Linked DNA regions of Homo sapiens: region 2 is linked to region 1. The links come from fine-mapping of genetic effects on gene expression. A gene starts in region 1. The other region holds a variant in brackets. All regions are shown on one strand. Distances are between the middles of the regions. Region 1 holds the start of MRGPRX2 (MAS related GPR family member X2). Region 2 has its middle 68 kb from the start of MRGPRX1.

Region 1 (5,388 bases):
CAAGTAATGCTCATATCAAATCCAAAATGGAATGTCGAAATTGCAGTTTTTTAAGCCTAGATTAAGCAACTTTAAGAAACAGTAAGGAAGAGAGATTAATCAAATAAGGAGAAGAGATATGAATAGAAGCCAACTGAGAATAAGCAACTGAATGCAAGAGCTCTTTCTTGCTTCAGAAAAACAGCCGTCAATCACTCCACACTGCAGAAAACTCTCATGGGTTGGAGGCCTCCAAGGGGAAAGTGAATGTGTCCTCCATGGGGGTGCAGAATTGGCATCAAGGACTGAATGCATCCATCACATGCTGTCTTAGTTCCTGTAGCCCTGGTTGGCCTTGTGAGGATATGGAAGAAAACCACTTCTGTTGTCCTCCCTCAGGGCAGGTTGGCCTTTTTATTCGTGGCACTGAACACAGTTTGCACCTGTATTTTTTTTTTTTTTTGAGATGGAGTCTCGCTCTGTCACCCAGGCTGGAGTGCAGTGGCTCGATCTCGGCTCACTGCAAGCTCCGCCTCCTGGGCTCACGCCATTCTCCTGCCTCAGCCTCCCGAGTAGCTGGGACTACAGGTGCCCACCACCACGACTGGCTAATTTTTTGTATTTTTTTTTTCAGTAGAGACGGGGTTTCACTGTGTTAGCCAGGATGGTCTCGAACTTCTGACCTTGTGATCTGCCCGCCTCGGCCTCCCAAAGTGCCAGGATTACAGGCGTGAGCCACCGTGCCCGGCCCTGCACCTGTATTTTTAAGTGTATGTCTGTTTTTTCTTTTACTTCCCTCATTAAGCTCAACATTTTTGTTGTGGTTGTTCACTATTATATCCCCAGCCTCCAACACATATCCCTTGGAGGCCATCTATTGTAATACGCTCATTTAACAAAGAAAGACAGGCTTAACGTGTACAAAAGAGTTTCCTGAATCACATGGTGAAAAGCAGGTCCAATACCAGCTCCAGTCTCCTGGGGCCCTGTCCTAGGTTTATTTCTGTTCCATGTCTACATCATTCACTATTTGTGAGGCAGTGTTGAGAAAAATCTCCAGGTGAGCACAGATGCTAAAAGAGAATCGGGCTATAGAGACTGCTTGTTGCCCCAAAAGCCATTCTCCTTTTCTCACACATAATAATTCTGAGTCTTAGATCAGAAAAAGGCCCATTTCTCAGCTTCCCTTTATGCTAATGGCACCATGTAACCATATGTGATGGTCAAGGGGAGGTGAGAGAAAGTGATATAACCAGCTACTCCTGTACTCTTTCTTTTTTTCTCTTCTCTCTGGCTGGAATGCTGATGTGTTTGGGAGCCATGTAGGACCATGAGGGTAAGGGTACCGCTTTAGGGATGGGGAAATAGAAATTGGAAGGAGCCTTGATGTTTGATGTCTTAGAGTTATCAGCCCAAGTCTAGTAAACATTCTTTTTGATTATCACTATAATAGGTTTCTTTTTAGAGAAGCCAAAATCATAAACTTACATTACACATACCTGTGTACTTATAGCTGGGAGTACCTATGTACTCCCAATCCCTTTTTTTCCCAACCACATTCCATTCTCAAGGCATTTATGATGATAGTGAGAGACTAGTCCAAAGAAGTGACACTAGATGGGAAGGTCAAACAATTAAAAAAAAGGGAGGTGATAGAATGAGAAATTGATTCAATCACATTAATAGAGAAAGTCTCAGGAAAGACAAACTGAGAAGAGGCTATGGGAAGAAATGGACTTTCCTATTTGCTATTAGGATCTCATGTCCATCCTTCTCTACCTGCCTTTGCATCCTGGGAGGAGACATGTCTGTGCCTCGTCAATGGGCTGTCTTTCACTCAGGCTCCAAAGGGTACACATTGACAGGAGATTGGAGGGTGACTTTTTTTTTCAGCCAAAGGGACACATTGACAGTAGATTGGGGGATGATTTTTTAAAAATTTCCTGGCTCTCTCCCTGCGCCCTGAAGGGCTGTGAGTTGGCAGTGGCAGTGTTTTTCTACCTAAGGACATAGCCCTGCCTGGTGGCCCTTTCCTGTAGCCACAGCTATAGTTACAGTTACAGTTACCGCTACAGCACATTCTGAGTTCTCAGAACTTCTCTTTCTCCTTATCACTTCAGACCTAGCAACGGTAACAGCCCTCCACTATCACTTGCCTTTGAGGGCTTCATCATTCCTTAATCCCTGTTCACGCCGTTGTAAACAGTCTCTTCACTAAACTCCTCTAAACTACCCCTTTAGAGTGTGTGATGTGTGTTTTCTGCTGGGACAATGACAGATATGAAGGAAAAACCTTTTGAATAACAAGAAAATCAGTGCAACCTGAGGTTTTAAATAACAATTTAGCTTAGGGAAGTAATGACTTCATTCTAGCCTGCCCCTAAATTAAAATCAGCAAAATCTTTCTCTCCATAGTTTCAGATTTGAATGGTCGAAGAGAAGGGGAGAATATTGGTAGATAGAAGAGAAGTGGGACGAACCTGCTTGACCCCATTCGGATCTCCCAGCATCTAAGCTGCCAGCATCCAAAGCTTCCTCAAAGGAGCTTCCTGTCTTCTTTTCCTAATGAATTCATCAGGATGTGGACTAAGGTAAAAACCAAAACTGCCTTTGAAAGAAGATGGTTCTTGAACAAACTCTTACCTTAACACCCTTCTTTCTACTGGAGTTGGTGAGTTGAGAAGTGCTTTCCTGGGACTGGCAAACAGCTGAGGATGGGGAGATGCCTGCAGGATCTGGAGTGAAACCTGATGACTGAGTGAAGCTTATCAAGATGCTCAACAACCCTGTGATTTCCTGTACAGAGGGTGCTGGAAAATAAGAGTATGACACAGGAAACCACATGAGATGTTTCTCAGCATTTGCCCTGACTCCAATCACTTATCTTGGTTTCTCCCCTACCCTCTCCGGCCCCACTCCCTGCAAGGAATCACCGTCCTGAAGTCTTTCATTGCCCACAATGAGCATCCAGGAAGCAGACCAATCAAGCGACGTGAGCTTTCATAGCTAAAGAATAGTCTGCCCTCTTCTGCTTGGCATTCAAGGCCCTGGCTTACTTGACCTTTCAAAATCAGGTTTATTTCAAATGACACTAAGGTGTATAAAATGAAATGCAAAGTCTCTCGAAGTCTCATTCCCCAAAAGCAACCACTGCATACAGTTTCCATTCTTTTTTTTAAAAAAGCTTTGCGTAATAAAACAACATTTCTATTTTTGATTTATCGATGTTAACAACTAGATATATTGAGTCTCCTTATAAAATATAGGGGACTTAGCACATCACATGCACCATCTGTCACGTTTCTCCCTCTACATCATGATATTTATTAGCTAGATTATTTTTAGATCATCTAGAGCCAACCAATATTTTCAGCCTTATCTCCTATGACTTCCTTTCATGTGCCTATGCTGCAGCCAAATTGAGTTATAAGTAACAATTATGAAGCATTTAAGACAATCAGAAGAAATTATTCACTCATTTATTCATTCATTCAACACTGTTTATTGTTTGCCTATGATATGTCAGGTACCGTTCCAGGCAATGAAGACACAATGATGAACACCATACAAGATCATGCCCCTTTGCATTCCAGAGCAGCTGGGTGACCTCAGACAGGGAACATGTGTTGATTGAGGCGAGTTCTGAGACTCAGCATTTTCTTGTATTATACTTTGGTGCAGTGGGTAAACCATGCATTTGTCCCCAGAAATCTGCTTTCCTCATGAGCAGCAGCAGGACCTTAGAAAGCTTTAACTTCTGTTACTGTCTAACCTACTGTGCTCTATTATTTGATTTTGATTCTGTTTCCCTCCAACAAATGAAACACTTATTATTGTTTTAAATAGTCAGTGTTTATTCAGATTTATCCACATAATCACCAATGCTTTTGCTCATCCTCCCATTTTACATCTCATATCTTCCATTTCTCAAAACACATTCTTCAGGAGTTCCTTCTGTGAGAGTCTCTGCATGGTAAATGCCTCCTTTTATCTATCTGAAAATGTCATTGTTTCACCCTCGTCTTCTAAAGATGGTTTTTCCAGGCATGGCATTGTAGGGTGATAGTTTCTTTCTTCCAGCACATTGAAGATCCATGTTCTGACTGCCAGGGTTACTGTTGCGGCCATCAGTCAGGTTGCCATTTGCTTGTGGTGATCTGCCTTTTTTTCCTCTAAGAGCTTTTATTTTTCTCTGCTATGATACATTCTCACCAAATTGTATCTGGTGACTCTTTTTCAAATCATGTTTGGGATTTGTGGAGTTTCCTAGATTTTAAAATTATCATCATTTAACATTTTTAAACAATTTAATGCTATAATCTCTTTAAATATTAACATAACGGTGAAGAACACAAGACCAGGCTACTTGGCATTTCTCCTATGGGACCTTAGCCAGATTTTGTAACTCTGTTATGTTTGTTTCCTCATCAGTAAAATGGGGATAACATTATTAATCTATAGGTTTGCTGTGAAGATTAATAATTTAATGTATATAAATGATTTACAATAGGAGCACATAGTAAGTACTATAAAATTATTAGCTCTCATTATCACTTTTAGTATTATCTCTTTCTGGAAGTCTAATTCAACATATGTTAGCCCTCTTCTTCTATCATCCTTATTTCTTTAACCTTTTCCTTATGTCTCGTCTCTGTCTCTGAGGCTGCTTTCTGGGTAATTTCTTCAGATGTATCTTCCAGTTAACTAGATTCTTTCCATTGTGTCTAATCATCTGTTTAATCTATCCACTGAAGTTTAAATCCAATTTTTATATTACTAATTTCTAGAAGTTCTATTTTATTTTTTTAAAATTATACTTTAAGTTATGCGATACATGGGCAGAACGTGCAGGTTTGTTACCTACGTATACACATGCCGTGGTGGTTTGCTGCATCCATCAACCCGTCATCTACATTAGGTATTTCTCCTAGTGCTATCCCTCTCCTAGCTCCCCACCCCCTGAGAGGCCCCAGTGTGTGATGTTCCCCTCCCTGTATCCATGTGTTCTCATTGTTCAACTCCCACATATGAGTGAGAACATGCAGTGTTTGGTTTTCTGTTCCTGTGTTAGTTTGCTGAGAATGATGGTTTCCAGCTTCATCCACGTCCCTGCAAAGAACATAAACTCATCCTTTTCTTACGGCTGCATAGAATTCCATGGTGTATATGTACCACATTTTCTTTATCCAGTCTATCATTGATGGGCATTTGGGTTGGTTCCAGGTCTTTGCTATTGTTAATAGTGCTGCAATAAACGTATGTGTGCATGTGTCTTTATAGTAGAATGATTTATAATCTCTTGGGTATATACCCAGTAGTGGGATTGCTGAGACAAATGGTATTTCTGGTTCTAGATCCTTGAGGAATCGCCACACTGTCTTCCACAATGGTTGAACTAATTTGCACTCC
Region 2 (5,388 bases), 190 kb before region 1:
CATGAAAGCAGATTGAATAGTTGGAATAAAGGGGGTGATATGGAGAGATGGATCAGAGGGAGAAAGCTCTGCTGACCCCATTTGAAACTCCCGCAGTCTGGGCTGCCAGCACTCAGTTTCTAGAAGGAAGCTTCATGTCTCCTGCCTTTTCTTGAAGGAAACTTATGAACTTCTGTATGCAGAACCCCAAGGTGGAAACACAGGTTTGTGAACTTATAGCAGAAACAATAACTTGCTGTGGAAAGAAGAGAGTTCTTGGTACATACCCTTACCTTTCCTCCTTCTTCAAGTCCAAAGATAAAGAGCTGCCCCTTGCTAAAGGGGTAGAGCCTTTCTGGGATTCCGTGACTTCAGAGCACTATTCTGTGTTGTGTCATTTAGGAGATGCCTACAAGAGCTGGAATGAGAACTGGCAACCAACCCAGGTTTATGAAGATACAGACAGCATGTGATTTCCTGTATGAGGATTGCAGGCAAATCAGAAGCCAGAGCTGTTTGAGCCACGATCCCTAACTGAGATGTTTCTTGGCCTCTGTCCCATTATTAATACATATCTGCCTCTCTCATCATATCCCATCTCATTCAACTTCCTGTAAGTAATTGCTGTTTTGAACTTTTACAATTTATTATGGGCCTAGGTATCAATGTCAAGCAACGTGAGCTTGTTTTGTGAGGCTTTATAACTAAAAACTAAAGTAGATCATAGGGTCTTTCAGGGCTTGCAATGGCTTGATCCCACTCTGTGTGTGGGTTTGGTTTTCTAAGTCCATGATTATTTTCTGTTCAAAGACAAAGTAGAAAACTCAAGAGTTTAAAGTTCATGTGGAACCAAAAAAGAGCCTGCATTGCCAAGTCAATCCTAAGCCAAAAGAACAAAGCTGGAGGCATCACGCTACCTGACTTTAAAGTATACTACAAGGCTACAGTAACCAAAACAGCATGGTACTACTACCAAAACAGAGATATAGACCAATGGAACAGAGCAGAGCCCTCAGAAATAATGCCACATATCTACAACTGTCTGATCTTTGACAAACATGACAAAAACAAGAAATGGGGAAATGATTCCCTTTTAAATAAATGGTGCTGGGAAAACTGGCTAGCCATATGTAGAAAGCTGAAACTGAATCCCTTCCTTACACCTTACACAAAAATTAATTCAAGATGGATTAAAGACTTAAATGTTAGACCTAAAACCATAAAAACCCTAGAAGAAAACCTAGGCAATACCATTCAGGACATAGGCATGGGCAAGGACTTCATGTCTAAAACACCAAAAGCAATGGCAACAAAAGCCAAAATTGACAAATGGGTTCTAATTAAACTAAAGAGCTTCTGCACAGCAAAAGAGACTACCATCAGAGTGAGCAGGCAACCTACAGAATGGGAGAAAATTTTTGCAATCTACTCATCTGACAAAGGGCTAATATCCAGAATCTACAATGAACTCCAACAAATTTACAAGAAAAAAACAACCCCGTCAAAAAGGAGGTGAAGGATATGAACAGACACTTCTCAAAAGAAGACATTTATGCAGCCAAAAGACACATGAAAAAATGCTCATCATCACTGGCCATCAGAGAAATGCAAATCAAAACCACAATGAGATACCATCTCACACCAGTTAGAATGGCGATCATTAAAAAGTCAGGAAACAACAGGTGCTGGAGAGGATGTGGAGAAATAGGAACACTTTTACACTGTTGGTGGGACTGTAAACTAGTTCAACCATTGTGGAAGTCAGTGTGGCGATTCCTCAGGGATCTAGAACTAGAAATACCATTTGACCCAGCCATCCCATTACTGGGTATATACCCAAAGGATTATAAATCATGCTGCTATAAAGACACATGCACACGTACGTTTATTGTAGCACTATTCACAATAGCAAAGACTTGGAACCAACCCAAATGTCCAACAATAATAGAATGGATTAAGAAAATGTGGCACATGTACACCATGGAATACTATGCAGCCATAAAAAATGATGAGTTCATGTCCTTTGTAGGGACATGGATGAAGCTGGAAACCATCATTCTCAGCAAACGATTGCAAGGACCAAAAACCAAACACAGCATGTTCTCACTCATAGGTGGGAATTGAACAATGAGAACACATGGGCACAGGAAGGGGAACATCACACTCTGGGGACTGTTGTGGGGTGGGGGAAGGGGGGTGGGATAGCGTTCGGAGATATACCTACTGTTAAATGGTGAGTTACTGGGTGCAGCACACCAACGTGGCGCATGTATACATATGTAA[C/A]TAACCTGCACATTGTGCACATGTACCCTAAAACTTAAAGTATAATTTAAAAAAAAGGAAAAAAAAAAAGAAAACTCAAGAGTGGAAAATGTTACCTTGTAGTTCACACTCTTTTAATCCCTTAGTCCCATAAAATTAACATTCTAAAGTGTAAGCAGTAGAAATAATGTAAACTCTATTGAAACTTAAGTAAATTATTTTTTTTCAGACTTGGTGGAGGTCCTTTTGCTGAACACTATACTCTGTTGTGAATAGGATACACCTTCAATGAGGAAGAAATCCTTGACCTATTTCACCATTTCTCCAACATTGCATAAAGGACATTTTTAAAATTCAGTTTCTTCTCTAACTGCAGCAAAAAGGCAAGGAGGAGTCTGTTTCAGGAACCTGAATCAATTCCTATGAAAGCCTTGTTCACTTAGAACAAGGCTTTAATTTGTTCTGTTTCCATATCAAGGTCTATGTCATGAAAGCAGGGCCAAGTGGCAGTCCTGGCACGATGCTCATTGTTCTAACCAAAGGGCCAATGAACCCAGCACCTATGCTGGCCTTGACATCACTGAGAGGTACAATGAAGTCCCTTGGCACAATTTTTTGGCAGGTTGGTGAGACAGAGAAAGGTGGGTCCTTGCCATGCAGATGGGCAAATTTCTGAAACCCTGTTGAGTGTTAACAATCTATTTTGGTTTGTGCCTCAGGAGAGAGCTGGATATCGTTGGCTCCATAGACAGCCAGGGCCATGGTTCTTATCTTTTCCACAATTGGAAGCTGAACATCATACGGGAAATGGAATCAACTTCTTTTACTTGCAGCTTCTCTCAAAGCCCAAGCCAAGTCCGCAACCGTTTTCTACCAACTGACCAGTGATAGCAAGGGACTGCATCAAAGGCACCAGCCCGTTTTGTGAGCTCACACACCAAGTCAATCTCAGCACCGGTGTGGATCTTGAAGACCTTCAGAGTCACCATAATGGGAACCCCAAAGAGCTGAGCAATCTGAATTTGCTGCTAGAGGTTACGGCAGCCATCTGCCACCAACTGGATGTTCTTTTCTTTATGTTCTTTCTTCAGAGGAACACCAGCAGTTACACTTGGCCCGCCACTGTGCATCTTCAGAGCTTGCACCGTTGCCACCAACACAACCACACTGGGCACCAAGCTGGAAGCTTGACACTTGTTGAAAAATTTCTCCATTTCAATGTCAGCACCAAAGCCAGCTTCAGTCACTACAAATCCTTCTTCACCAACCAGTTTCAGGGCAATTTTGTCAGCCAACACTGAAGAATTGCCATGGGTGATGTTAGCAAAAGGGCCCACGTGCATGAATACAGGTGTCCATTCCAGGGTCTGCATCAGATGGCCACCACCATCCTTCCCAGCCATGTCTTCATGTCTGAGAGGCTGTTCATAAGGGCCAGCACCACCATGATCTCGCTGGCCACCACGATATCAAACAGCGTTTGCCAAGAGGAGCCTTTCTCTGTGTTTGCCTGCCTGATGGTTATTTTTTGTAGAAATCAGTTGTTTGTATTTTTTTAATTAAATTTTTTTATTTCCATAGGTTATTGGGGAACAAGTGGTGTTTGGTTACATGAGTAAGTTCTTTAGTGGTGATCTGTGACAAAACGGGGCAGCCTGTGGCACTGATGATTTGGGGGTGACTGGTGCTTTGACAGTTTTGATGAAAGATGCAATGAAATCAAATCTGTGAGATTTTGGTGCACCCATCACCCGAGCAGTATACTCTGCACCCAATTTGTAGTCTTTTATCCCTCATCCCCTTCCCACCCTTTCTCCCTGAGTCCCCAAAGTCCATTGTGTCATTCTTATGCCTTTGCATCCTCATAGCTTAGTTTCCACATATCAGTGAGAACGTATGATGTTTGGTTTTCCATTCCTGAGTTACTTCACTTTGAATAATAGTCTCCAATCTCATCCAGGTTGCTGAGAATGCCATTAATTCATTCCTTTTTATGGCCGAGTAGTATTCCATCATATATATATTAGTTTCTTTACCCACTTGTTGATTGATGGGCTTTTGGTTGGTTCCACATTTTTGCAATTGTGAATTGTGCTGCTATAAACATGTGTGTGCAAGTATCTTTTTTGTAAAATGACCTCTTTTCCTCTGGGTAGATACCCAGTAGTGGGATTGCCAGATCAAATGGTAGTTCTACTTTTAGTTCTTTAAGGAATCTCCACAGTGTTTTCCATAGTAGTTGTACTTGTTTACATTCCCACCGGCAGTGTAGATCACTGTATCCATGCCAACATCTATTTTTTTTGTAGAAATCGGTCATTTTTATTCAATACTCTCTGCCATGCGATGGTGGAAGGGTCGGCGTCGAGGCAGGCAAATTTACTCATTTCCTCTTCTGTCAGTGTGCTTGGATCTGTCTTATTTATTCCCAGTTTTTTTTTAGTCAAGTAATCAGAGAATTTCTGAAAATTCTGTGACACCATTCATTAAATGAATCAGCTGATTATACAGAGCCTTGTCTGTGCATTTTCATGCAGAATCCTTGGGTCGATGACAGCAGCTGGTGAATTATTGGCAACTGTGATGGCATGGATATCTCCAGTCAAGTGAAGGTTGAACTCTTCCATGGGATGACCAGGGCATATCCACTACCCATGACTCCTTCTTTCCACTCCAAAAGTCGGTCCTTGGGAAGGTTGCCTCATACAGGCAAAAGAGGTGACATGCAGATGCATGGTCAGAGCCTGCACAGCCCAGTCATAACTGTGCTCTTCCCTTCTCCTAGAGGAGTGGGCGTGATCCCAGTGACTAAGATGTATTTTCCATCTGCTTGATCCTTTATCCTTTCTAGCACAGACAAAAACTTTGTCTTTACTTTTGCCATTGATTTTAATTTCATCTGCAAGCAATCCCAACTCATTATGGGTAAATGGATCAGTAGAAAGGTCTGCTTGACTCCATTTGGAACTCCTGCAGTCTGGACTGCCAGCCTCTCCCATCCCATCCCATATGGCCCACCTCCCTGTAATCAATTGTTGTTGTGGACCTTTAAATGTCCACTGTGAGCCTAGGTTCAATGTCAAGCAATGTGAGAGTGTATTGTGGGGCTTTATAAATGAAGAAAAAGGTATATCAGAATGTCATCCA

What was found. PIP is the estimated chance that this variant, and not a neighbour inherited with it, causes the effect.
Region 2: its variant is the best candidate, but not a certain one, in a credible set for the expression of MRGPRX2 in lung (TOPMed, PIP 0.90).

The regions. Positions count from the first base shown.
Region 1 is chr11:19,057,997-19,063,384 of GRCh38, forward strand. It overlaps MRGPRX2 (MAS related GPR family member X2), which reads right to left and starts at 2,721. Exons shown (of 2, transcript NM_054030.4): 1 at 2,623-2,721.
Region 2 is chr11:18,868,304-18,873,691 of GRCh38, forward strand. It overlaps the pseudogene LOC645397. Among named protein-coding and RNA genes, the nearest start is that of MRGPRX1, 68 kb to the right of the region's middle. The variant C/A (reference allele first, on the strand shown) is at 2,263.